3 linked regions of the Homo sapiens genome follow. The protein of the gene in region 3 purifies or fractionates together with the protein of the main gene of each other region. This does not show direct contact. Each region holds a gene or a part of one and is shown on either strand. Other genes may lie near its edges. The genes, in order: ECHDC1, XPO7 and TMEM108.

Evidence for each region.
Region 1: the proteins of TMEM108 (region 3) and ECHDC1 purify together in Homo sapiens (affinity purification with mass spectrometry; one large-scale study listed by BioGRID and IntAct). This does not show direct contact.
Region 2: the proteins of TMEM108 (region 3) and XPO7 purify together in Homo sapiens (affinity purification with mass spectrometry; 2 studies listed by BioGRID and IntAct, with this or other methods). This does not show direct contact.

Annotation. Positions count from the first base shown.
Region 1 is NC_000006.12:127,333,557-127,337,212, reverse strand, and holds part of ECHDC1 (ethylmalonyl-CoA decarboxylase), read left to right. Parts: intron 1-3,656. UniProt on the Homo sapiens protein: Decarboxylates ethylmalonyl-CoA, a potentially toxic metabolite, to form butyryl-CoA, suggesting it might be involved in metabolite proofreading. Acts preferentially on (S)-ethylmalonyl-CoA but also has some activity on the (R)-isomer.
Region 2 is NC_000008.11:21,999,560-22,003,215, forward strand, and holds part of XPO7 (exportin-7), read left to right. Parts: coding exon 1-115; intron 116-2,552; coding exon 2,553-2,713; intron 2,714-3,656.
Region 3 is NC_000003.12:133,394,787-133,398,385, forward strand, and holds the end of TMEM108 (transmembrane protein 108 isoform 1 precursor), read left to right. Parts: intron 1-1,077; coding exon 1,078-1,200; 3' UTR 1,201-2,989; downstream 2,990-3,599. UniProt on the Homo sapiens protein: Transmembrane protein required for proper cognitive functions. Involved in the development of dentate gyrus (DG) neuron circuitry, is necessary for AMPA receptors surface expression and proper excitatory postsynaptic currents of DG granule neurons.

The sequences.
Region 1 (3,656 bases), on a different chromosome or scaffold from region 3:
ATGTGGATTTTTCCCACAAGAAACTTCGCAGGGCAATTTCAGGGTATGGCAAGGAAATGTATTTAGGAATTAAATATTTTCTTCTTGTCTTAGAATGTTATGCCAGAGTCAGATTGAAAAGTAAGTCACAATATACAGGGTTAAATAAAACCCATCTGATGAGAATTTATGGTTTGTAGGGCATGACTCCCCAGACCCCTTAGGTGGGAATTTGGGCAAGATTAAAAAATCAGAGCTTAGTCCTCAGTGTGGTTAACCAATTTGTTTCAAGCCCCATTGCTTGGCATTTCTCAATAAAGTCTGAAATTTTTAGTTTAAGTTGCTTCCACTAGCTAAGAGATTTTGAGGCAACTTGATATTTACATTTGAGTGATAACTTAGAAAGTGTCTAAAATCCTTGGTGTTTTTTTCATAACCACTTCACACTTTGTAATTGGTAACATTTTATTTGTAAAACTTTTCCCCGCTTCCATTTTCCGTAGACTTGAATTTTCTATGCTTATCACTTTATTTCTCCTTCAGGGTAAAATATTTAAAAATACAGTTCTGTGTGCCTTAGAGCAAGAAAACTCTCAACCACAGAATTTGTCCTTGCCCAGGAAAGTTTTGCTTTCCAGTTAAAGAGAGAGTTTATTTGACCAGGATAGCTCATTTTCCAATAATGGTAGATAACTAATGGTAATAATTTCAGAAATACTTCCTTTCCATAGACAGAACTTTTACTTCCCTTTGGGAAAGCAGGGAAATAGGTCTTTGAACCAGACTGCAGTTTTGGGTAATGGAGCTATATAAGGGAAAGAGATAAGTTAAATATGGGGAATAATATTCAGTGAATGAAAATAATATTTGCAGGAACATTATTTCAAGTGAATCATTTGTTTAAAATTAAATAATCTATTATTTAAGTATATGGCAGTAATTTTTGGCATTTAAAAATTTTATTTAGTTTCACAGTATCCTCTCATTCTTCTACATGCCCGGTAATTTTATGTAGTACTGGTAAAGTACCTATTATTGCACTAAATTAGGTGGTGAGAACATCTGTGATATAAACTTTCATTCTGCCTTTATTGTGTCACTAAACATTTCCATGTTCTAATTAGATTCTTTTATTTTGAAGTTTATTTTAAAAATCTTGCAGGGTACCTTGAATTAACTGAAAATATCCTAGAATGTTGCAAAATCATGTTTGATCATTGTTCCCTCTAGCTTTCTAGTTCTTCAGGAGGCCTTAGATACCTTAAAATCTGTTAATACCATAGAATCAGTTAATACCGTATCATTTTCTAATTTGACAGAACAGGTGATGGGATGGAAGGATGTCTCATAAGTTATACTGTATGAGTTTTGGAAAAGGAGTATGGAATTGCCAATAGATGAAGACATTAAAGTATTGAAAATACTAAATATTTAGATATTTTGCAACTTGTAACATTTGACCACTTTCCTTATTAGTTGCTTATTAGTTTTGTATATCACATTGACCCAAACCTTATTAATCACAATTCATTAAGTAGGTCACCCAGTGCTTTCATTATTCTTTATTCGGTAACCATAGCTGCTGGCAACTGGTGACTTTTTTGGTGGGAGGGAGGGAGGATACAAAGAAAGACGATAACAGATTTGAAATTAAGGGAAAGAATAAAGTTATGACAGTTAAAAGCAGGTCCTATCAAAGATTTATGATGGCAAGTTAGAACATCTTTTTTTTCTTGGAAAAATAACATCAAGTTTTTATTCTTAGATACCATTTTTTAAGATGACAAGCACCCCGCTACTTTTTTTGTCACACTCTAAAATATAATGCATTAGGTCACAATTTATCTGAGTTACACTTCAGTCTCCTTGAGGAGATTTAAGAAAGGTCTTGGTATCTTCAATATTGTAGTTATAAGCCACCTTAGTTGGTAAAGTTTTGAAATACTGTTCTCAAGTTTTTGAAATATATGTGTTTGAGGGGATTACATCCCACTGTGTGTTCAGGTAAGTATTCATTGGAAACACTTTGGTAAAAATGTCACTTGAAGGCCATGTGACTTAAAGTGGAAACCAGATATTGTATTGTAACCTTTATATGTTCTCTGTCAGTTTCTGATACCATTTTATAACTCACATATTAGATATATTTTTAAAGCTATAAAACAAGTTTGTGGCATTCCTTTTGGCTGCGTGATGAGTTATTTTTTTTACTTGCCTACATTCTCCCTCATTAACTATTAAGTAAGTACCTTTTATGTATTAAGTACTGTAGCCACTAGTGACACAAAGTATGTACCTCAGAATACTCTCAGGAAGCATCCTTCCAACTGAGAAAAACAAATGAAAAATTGAAATGATTTGAGGAATGTGTTAAAATGGAACATTATTGCAGTATACTGAGCTGGGATAAATAAAGGGAGTGATTATCTTTACTTGGGGAATCACTTTTAGGTGGAAATATAGAAATTCAGTTTTTAAAAATGATTGGGGATTTACCAGGTTAATGAGGGAGGAAAGAACAATATAGGGGAGAAGCAATAATATAAAATAGCATGGTAAATTTGTGGGACTCTGGTTATTTGGTGTTCTGTATTGATTGTGTAGAGATATCAGACGAGAAGAGATTCAGGATTTAGGTAAGAATTTAAAAAAAGCTTTGGACTTGATCCTTTTGGTAGACAGCTACTGAGAAACCTTAAATTTGAAATGTCCTGATTGGATTATAATCATATCCACATTACTCTAAAGAACAGTATGCTACTAACTGGTGACTGTTGTATTAATTCAGATTATATGTAATGAAGTTTGAACTGTATTAGTAATAGGAGAGGGAAAGATCAGAAGGAAGTAACCATTTTGGAGGGCCATTGCATACGGACCTCCAAATAGTGGTGGAGAAGGAGACTGGGTTGATTTAGAGGTTTTCTGGCATAGATTACAGGGTTGATGATACAATGAATAGTTCAGGGAAAGAAGGAGTAATGGGTTTTACGTGAAGTATGAGTTCAGGATTAAATAATGATTTTGAGAAGCCTATGATAAATCTAGAAATGAGGGGTAAGGGATTGCATTTCTGTTAGGCAATACTAAGGAGTACAGGCATAAGGTCTGAATTAGAGATAGAAATGTGAGATTCATGTCTTGTAGGTTTTAGGAAAGTTGTGAGCAGAAGAATAAAAGATCTCTAACAAATTAATAAAAAGGCAAATAAATAGAAATAATGGGCAAAAAGCTTGCACAGGAACTTCACAAAAGATGATATGCAAATGACCAATAAGCATAAGAAAATGGGGTTTATCTTCGTTAGACATTATAGAAACACAAAATGAAACCACAGTAAGATACCATCCACTAGAATGCCTAAAATAGAAAAAACAAAGAAGAAGTGATACTTGTGGAGCAACTGGAGCTTTCACTGCCTGTGGGAATATACATTTGTACAGCTATTTTAAAAAACTGACAGTATATTCTAAGGTTGAGCAAATGCATACATTATAACTGGTGGTATACTGGTAAACTGTGTGTGTGTGTGTGTGTGTGTGTGTGTGTGTGTGTGTGTGTGTGTGTAAGAGAAAGAGAGTATGATTGATATGTCATGTAGTCCCACCATGGTCAATTTCAAGCTACTGATAGTTTAAAGAACCAACTTGCAAAATAAATGTTTAATCATCAGTGTA
Region 2 (3,656 bases), on a different chromosome or scaffold from region 3:
TATTATTCACTACTGGAAGTCCTGACCCAGGACCATATGAACTTTATTGCAAGCCTGGAACCTCACGTCATCATGTATATTCTCTCTTCCATTTCTGAAGGACTTACTGCACTTGGTAAGCACCTGAGGTGGGTGGGTGAGTTGGTGGGTTTGTTTTTTACCACTTAACTAAACAGAAAGAGAGAATCTTGCCCCAGTGTCCAAAAAGATCACCACTGCCTTGGGGGTTTGGCCATAACAATAGAGTATATAATGCACAGCACATGCTTATCCAGCACACACTCACTGATTCCCTTCCTAAGTACAAGGCCCTGTGGAAGCACTGAGGATACGGTAATTAACAGCATATAGTCCCTGTCCTTAAGGGGCTTATCTGGTGGGTAGAACAGACACATGAACAAACAACTGCCTGTTTACCATACTTACCACTTAAACATTACAATAGGGGTGAGTACAAAGTGCTACACAAGCCCTCAAGAATACCTAGACTCTTGGTTGTGAGGAAGTCAGGATCAAGGAAGACTGGCTGGAAGACTTGGCATCAAAGCATAAACCTAAAAGCTGGACAGATGTTACCCTGGTTAGCCAGGGAGGGTTCCTAGCAGCAGAGACAGCAAGCACTTGCACCTGTAGGCAAGAAAGAACCAGGAAATCCAGATGGCTGGCACACTAGTCCAGAGGAGTTAGGAATGAAATGAAGCTTTAGAGATAAGCAGGAGCAAATCTGGAGATCATGAAGGGGGCCCGCCTGTAAGCCGTATTAGGCTGTTTGAATTCTGTCCTGAGGGCCGTGGAAGCTGGGGAAAGGTTTCATGCAGCTAGCTCCATAAGTTTTTTCATCCTAGTCCATATGGTTTCTGTCAACCATTTTGTTTCTAGGCTACCTTCCAACAATTTTTTTTTTTTTTTTTTTGAGACGGAGTCGCTCTGTCGCCCAGGCTGGAGTGCAGTGGCGCGATCTCAGCTCACTGCAACCTCTGCCTCCCGGGTTCATGCCATTCTTCTGCCTCAGCCTCCCAAGTAGCTGGGACTATAGGCGCCCGCCACCATGCCTGGCTAATTTTTTTGTATTTTTAGTAGAGACGGAGTTTCACTGTGTTAGCCAGGATAGTCTCAATCTCCTGACCTCATGATCCGCCTGGCTTGGCCTCCCAAAATACTGGGATTACAGGCATGAGCCACCGTGCCTGGCCCAACAATCTTAGTAGGTATATGTGTTCAGAGAATAAAACACATTTTTATATTAGGCTGAGCAAAACATAAGTAGGAGGATTAAGTCAACTGCCAAATAGTGATGATATGTTGCAAATACACTTTTGGATTGTCAACTGTGGTGAATTATCCATGCCTCTGTGCGACTTTGATACACATTTACTTCTATCAGTCTATCAGGGTGCATAGCCGTATCTAGTACAGTCCAATCAAGGTATCAGCCCTTGCTTTGGAAGACTTTTTTATGTCTTATTGAAAATACAGGGACCTGGCCGGGCGTGGTGGCTCATCCCAGCACTTTGGGAGGCTGAGGCGGGCAGATCACAAGGTCAGGAGCTCGAGACCAGCCTGGCCAATATGGCAAAACCCTGTCTCTGTACAAAAATTAGCTCGGCGTGGTGGTGTGTGCCTGTAGTCCCAGCTACTCTGGAGGCTGAGGCAGAAGAATCACTTGAACCCGGGAAGTAGAAGCTGTGGTGAGCCGAGATCGTGCCACTTCTGCACTCCAGCCCGGGCGACAGAACGAGACTCCGTATCAAAAAAAAAAAAAAGAAAGAAAAAGCAAGTAGAGGGACGTTTGCATAAACTATCAGTCCCGTAGGAATCAGAGACTTGTTTACTCTTTTAAGGGTTCAGCCCCTTTGTCCTTTGGCCTTACCTCATCAGAGTTCTGTCCACAGGTTGTGCTGTACTGTTCCCTTTGTAAAGACGCATAGATGAGTCTGCAGCTCCCCCCAGAGATGCTTTGGAGATAAACAGATAATACAGCATACCGTGTTCTAACAAACCATAAACATTCAGGGGCTACGTCATTCTGGGTTTAATTACATCCCACTGGTAACTCAGAGCATAGGCTCATACCCCAGGCTTCTTGGATTCTAATCACAGCTCCTGCAATTACTAGCAGTTGATCCTTAGGCCGATACATAACCTCTCCTAATTCTGGTTTCCTCATTTGTAAAACAGAAAACCTAATTCCTGAGTTCTTGAGAGGATAAATTAGAGATAACACCTATAAAGTACTTAGCACAACATCTGGCACAAAAGAAGCACTTGCTGAATCAAACTATTTGTTATTTTGTGTGAGGCAGAAGATGTACGTACATCCACAACACATTGAGCCGATAATTTCAGTATTCTTTATTACCACATACTCACTTTCAAACTTAGAAATTGAGCCCTACTGTACAATGAGGTTAAGAGGTTAACAGGAGTCATCTTGAGCAACCGCCTTGGTTGAATTGGCCACGGTACCCTAATGGATCTCACCCAAAGATAGTCCATATTTGTCCAGGCCACCATCAGCAGCTCTGTCCTACCCCTGCCTTTCTTTCTTGCAGACACCATGGTATGCACAGGCTGCTGCTCCTGCCTGGACCACATTGTGACATACCTCTTCAAGCAGCTGTCACGTAGCACCAAGAAGAGGACCACACCCCTGAACCAGGAGAGCGACCGCTTTCTGCACATCATGCAGCAGCATCCAGAGATGATCCAGCAGGTAAGAAAGTGGAGGCTTAGGAGGCAGTGATGGGGTGTCCGACAGAGGAAGGACCTCTGCAAGACAGGGGAGCCCACACACGATTAACATGACATCTCATCAGGTTCCTGCTGCTGAGATGAAGTCCGTGTCTTAAAGTTGCAGTGGATTTTGAGTTTGCCAAGTAATCACTGGATGTAGAAAACGCTCAGGTTCTGGATTATTCTTCTGAGTGTCACAGTGATCCCTATGCCCTGGACCTGTCTCATGATCACTATCCTCTTTCTGTGAAAATTACTTTGCTCACCCACTGCTATAAATAGAGCAGGAGTTAGCAGCATCCAGCTTTCTAAAGGCTTGTGTTCCTGTTTACAAAACAGGAAGAAGAATGCAAGACAGAAGGAAATAACTGGCCACAGAGAGATCAAACCATATGCTTGCCCTTATTTTATTTGTATGTGCCTTGAAGTAACTTACAGAAATACATGCTAGATGAAAATAGATAAGGAAATGGGATCAGTAATTATTGAGATTTTAGCCAGTCTTACCTTTGTCCACACCGTTCTCTAAAGAAGCAGTGAAATAATTCAGGACTCCATTACATTCACAAGATGTCATAAAGCTGTCAACTCCGAGTACCTGGAAGGGATCATGCAAGGTGGTTTTGCTTACTGTAATTTTGTTTACGTGACCCCATCCCATTCCCCACAACTCAGGGTGACCTGGAAAGATCCATTGGTAAGTGAAGTTCAAACCAATTTTAAGAACAAGAAAGGAAATGAATATCTTAGAAGAAAAGGTAACCTTGAAATAGAAGACTCAGATGAAGCTTCACAAACTATTTGTCTGATTTACCCTATACAGAAAAGGCCTTCAGCCTAATATACTCCTGTATTTGGAATCTGTCGTTTTATCTTGGGTAGCAATACATTAGGTCACTGCCTGAAATTCTCCATTCCATTTT
Region 3 (3,599 bases):
GGCATTTCTTCCTTACCTTATGATTCATACAGCAGTAAGTACTCCTCAGAAAGTATCTGTTATGTATGTTTTGTTTAAAAATAAACTTCAGAGAATTAATTGTGGCTAAGCAAATCTGGCATGAGCCAGTATACCTAGGCCTATAGTTGAGTCTTTGTCCTGAAATGGCTTGAAGGTTCCAAGACATTAGCTGTTTTAATTGGAAGAAGCTATGACTTTCTTTTTTTCTCTCTCTTAATTAGTACCAGGGCCCAAATCCAAGTACAGCCATTTAGTAGCCCGTAAATGTTTGCTTGTCCTTGGTAAGTGAAACCAAAACCCTGCCAAAGCCATACAGATTACCTTCTGGGCAGTGGATGGCCTATTTCTAGGCTTTTCTGCTCCTGCAACTGAACATACAGACTGAAATTTTCATCTGTCACTTATTATGCAGTCACACAGAGATGCAGATCCATTCAGCTCAGCATCACTAGTGCTATAAGAAATGGGGCAATAATTCTGACCAGGCTCTGGAAGGACTCAGAGCGGGAAGGAATTGGCCCTTGAAGCCTCTTGACAGGTCTGTTAGATCCTGACAGGTGGGTAGCAGGAAACAGGCGAGTGAGTCTAGGTGTATTCAGGAAGGAAAAGCAGAGAAGTTTCCCAGAAGTCTGTGAGAAAGAGGCAGGAAGTAGTCTGGGTGCAAGTGGACTGAGTTTTGCCACTAGTGCAGTGAGCCATGCACTGTATGTGTGTCATGCATGGCAAGTCCCCTCAGACTTTGACAAGGAAAGCAGTACCATCTCTGGCAACCTGGGATTGGGGTGATTCCAGAAGCAGGGAACATTTTTTGAAAGCTGCTATAAAAATATGAAAGAACAGCACAAAAATTAAAATATACACATACACACACACACACAAATTAATTAAAAGAATGGCATAGAGGGCTGTGCACCTCAGCATTAGCAGTAGGGATGATGAAAATGTGCACCAAGCCATCAGTGCTGAAATAAATGTTCCCATGTGTACATTTCTTTAAGAATGGCCACCTCTTAAGCCTTCTCCAGCTCACTCCATCTCCTCCCTCTCTCTTCCCAGGACCAGCTCTCAGAGCCCCGCTCCCCAGCCAATGGCGACTATAGAGACACTGGGATGGTCCTTGTTAACCCCTTCTGTCAAGAAACACTGTTTGTGGGAAACGATCAAGTATCTGAGATCTAACTACAGCAGGCATCACTTTGCCATTCCGTATTTTTCGTCTCTAAATTATAAATATACAAATACATATATTATAAATATAACCTTTGTGTAACCCTGACTTAATGAGAAACATTTTCAGCTTTTTTTCCTATGAATTGTCAACATCTTTTTTACAAGTGTGGTTTAAAAAAAAAAAAAACTTTACAGAATGATCTGTGGCTTTATAAAATAAAGGTATTTCTAAGCAAAGCAGTTGCATTGATTGCTTCTCTTAATAACTATTCTTGAGCACCTGGGGATCCCAGGAACCCTGGTCAGGTGAGGTAAGAGACTGACCTCCTGTAGAAGCTGAATGTTACAGTGCAAGCGCACGATTCTTTGAGTGATTCTTAAAGCTCTGGTTCCTCTTGATTTGGTGTGACCCCATTTCCTCCCTTCTCATACGCACACCTGTAAAGGGAACTGGACCGCCTCAGGGGAAGACGGCAGACTCATGCACAGAGAAGGAAAAGGGAACATCTCATCACCTCTGAGGATGAGTACCCTGGAGCCTTATGACGGCACCATTGGATGTCATGTTTAATTCCATCCAAGTTGTGGATGGCAGGCAGGAGCATGGAGCCCTCAGGAATCCATGGAGGACATCAAGGCATCCCAAGGCCATATTCCCCTAACATTACTTCCACTGCTAACAACAGGACTGCCTTTCCCTGGTGGGAAAATGCTCCCTTTATGCCCATTCCTGTATCCCCTCCAACACCCACATCTGCATTAAACACCCGTGCCTTTCTCTTGGAGAGGGTTTAGATGCAGATCCCGGCCCTGGAGCTTTAAAATGCTTGCCCTTCCTTCTTCAAGGATCAAATGTTTATTGGGGTTCAGCTTTGTTTTCTCAAAAGGCCATGGTATCGTGCCCCTGAGGAACATGTTTATCTAAGAAGCTTTGAGGTAGTAGAGCGATAATTTTTGAAACCTTCCTCCTGCAATCTTTAAAAAAGAAAAAAAAGATTGCCCAAACAAATCATTTGGGAGAAGACATCATTATACTCCTACTTGGCACTGCAAACCTGCTCGCAGCACCAGCCGGTGGACTTGCCATCCAGCTCTCAGCTTCCACTGCTCCCCTTGTTCCCGGCCGGCTGGCTGCCTCCCCGTGCTGTGTCCAGCACGGCCAACAACGTCAGACCCTCAGAGACGCCCAAGGGGCTTCCAGAGGTGGCCGCTTCTCTATTTTTTCCTGATTGTGGCTGAGAGAGATGATTACTGCTTTGACACTTCCTTTCTCTAAAAGAAAAATAGTTTGATAGTATATTTTGAATATAGATGCTCTTATAGTCAGATTGGGAATTGAACTTGAATATTGGGTCATATGTTTGTGTTGTTGCTGTAGTCTATCATGACTTTTTTCTTTCTGCATTTTCCTTAAAAAAAAAAAAAAGATGGCCTTCAAAAGTGTGTTCTCAATGTTGTATGAACCTCCTTCACATGAGTTCGGTTGTTGTCTCTCTTCAAAGACTCTTCAACCCACAAAGAAGCAACTAAATGTTTCTCTAAGTTTAATTTTCTAGCGTGTTGTTGTCTTACCTTTTTAACCTTACCATAATATTTCTGTTAACTGTTACATTTAATATACCAATGTGTGTAAGTATACAGAGAAAAATCTGTTTGTAAAGTAAAATTTATATATAATATATGTAATCAAAGATACATATGTTATATATACATATGTGGATGTATGACTTATTTTTCCTTATCCACAGATTTCAGCTACCATGTATATATAAATAAACTTATTTTATTAGCCAGAGGATTCTGTTGCTAATACATTTTGCATTCTTTTCAAGATAAGCTCTAAGTCTTCCTTAAGCAGTACCAACACCACTTTATATCCATCTGTATTTTTTAATCTGATTTAACAGTAAGTTGAGTTTTATGTATGTGATGAGCTAATAGGATTAGCAGTTTATCATTTGATAAAATAAATCTTTTTGAACATGTTTGCAGTTTCTCCAAAACAGACTCATCTTTCATCAGGTCTTTGGAGACAGTGGTGTCAAAGTACATCCCCCCCTCTTTCTCCCTGTCTCCAGGGCTGAGTGGATTTATATAGTAAATATCTTTGGTCCGGAGAAGTCTGAAGTTAACCTGGCCATTGAGTGTTACCATTCTGTAGAGAATAACAATGCCTAAACATGACACATTTGTGCACAACTTAATCAGTAGCCTGAACTTTTCATTCAGCCTTGGACAATACATCTTGGAATTCACAATAATGCAGATCCTCAGAACCAAGTCAGTGTCATCCGTATAGGAGGCTGTTACTGTAACACAGGCTCGCATGCCCCTTCTGGGTGCATCAGGGGTGGTGTTCACAGCATTAATGCTACATCTGAATAAACAAGGACACTACTGGCCTTTAC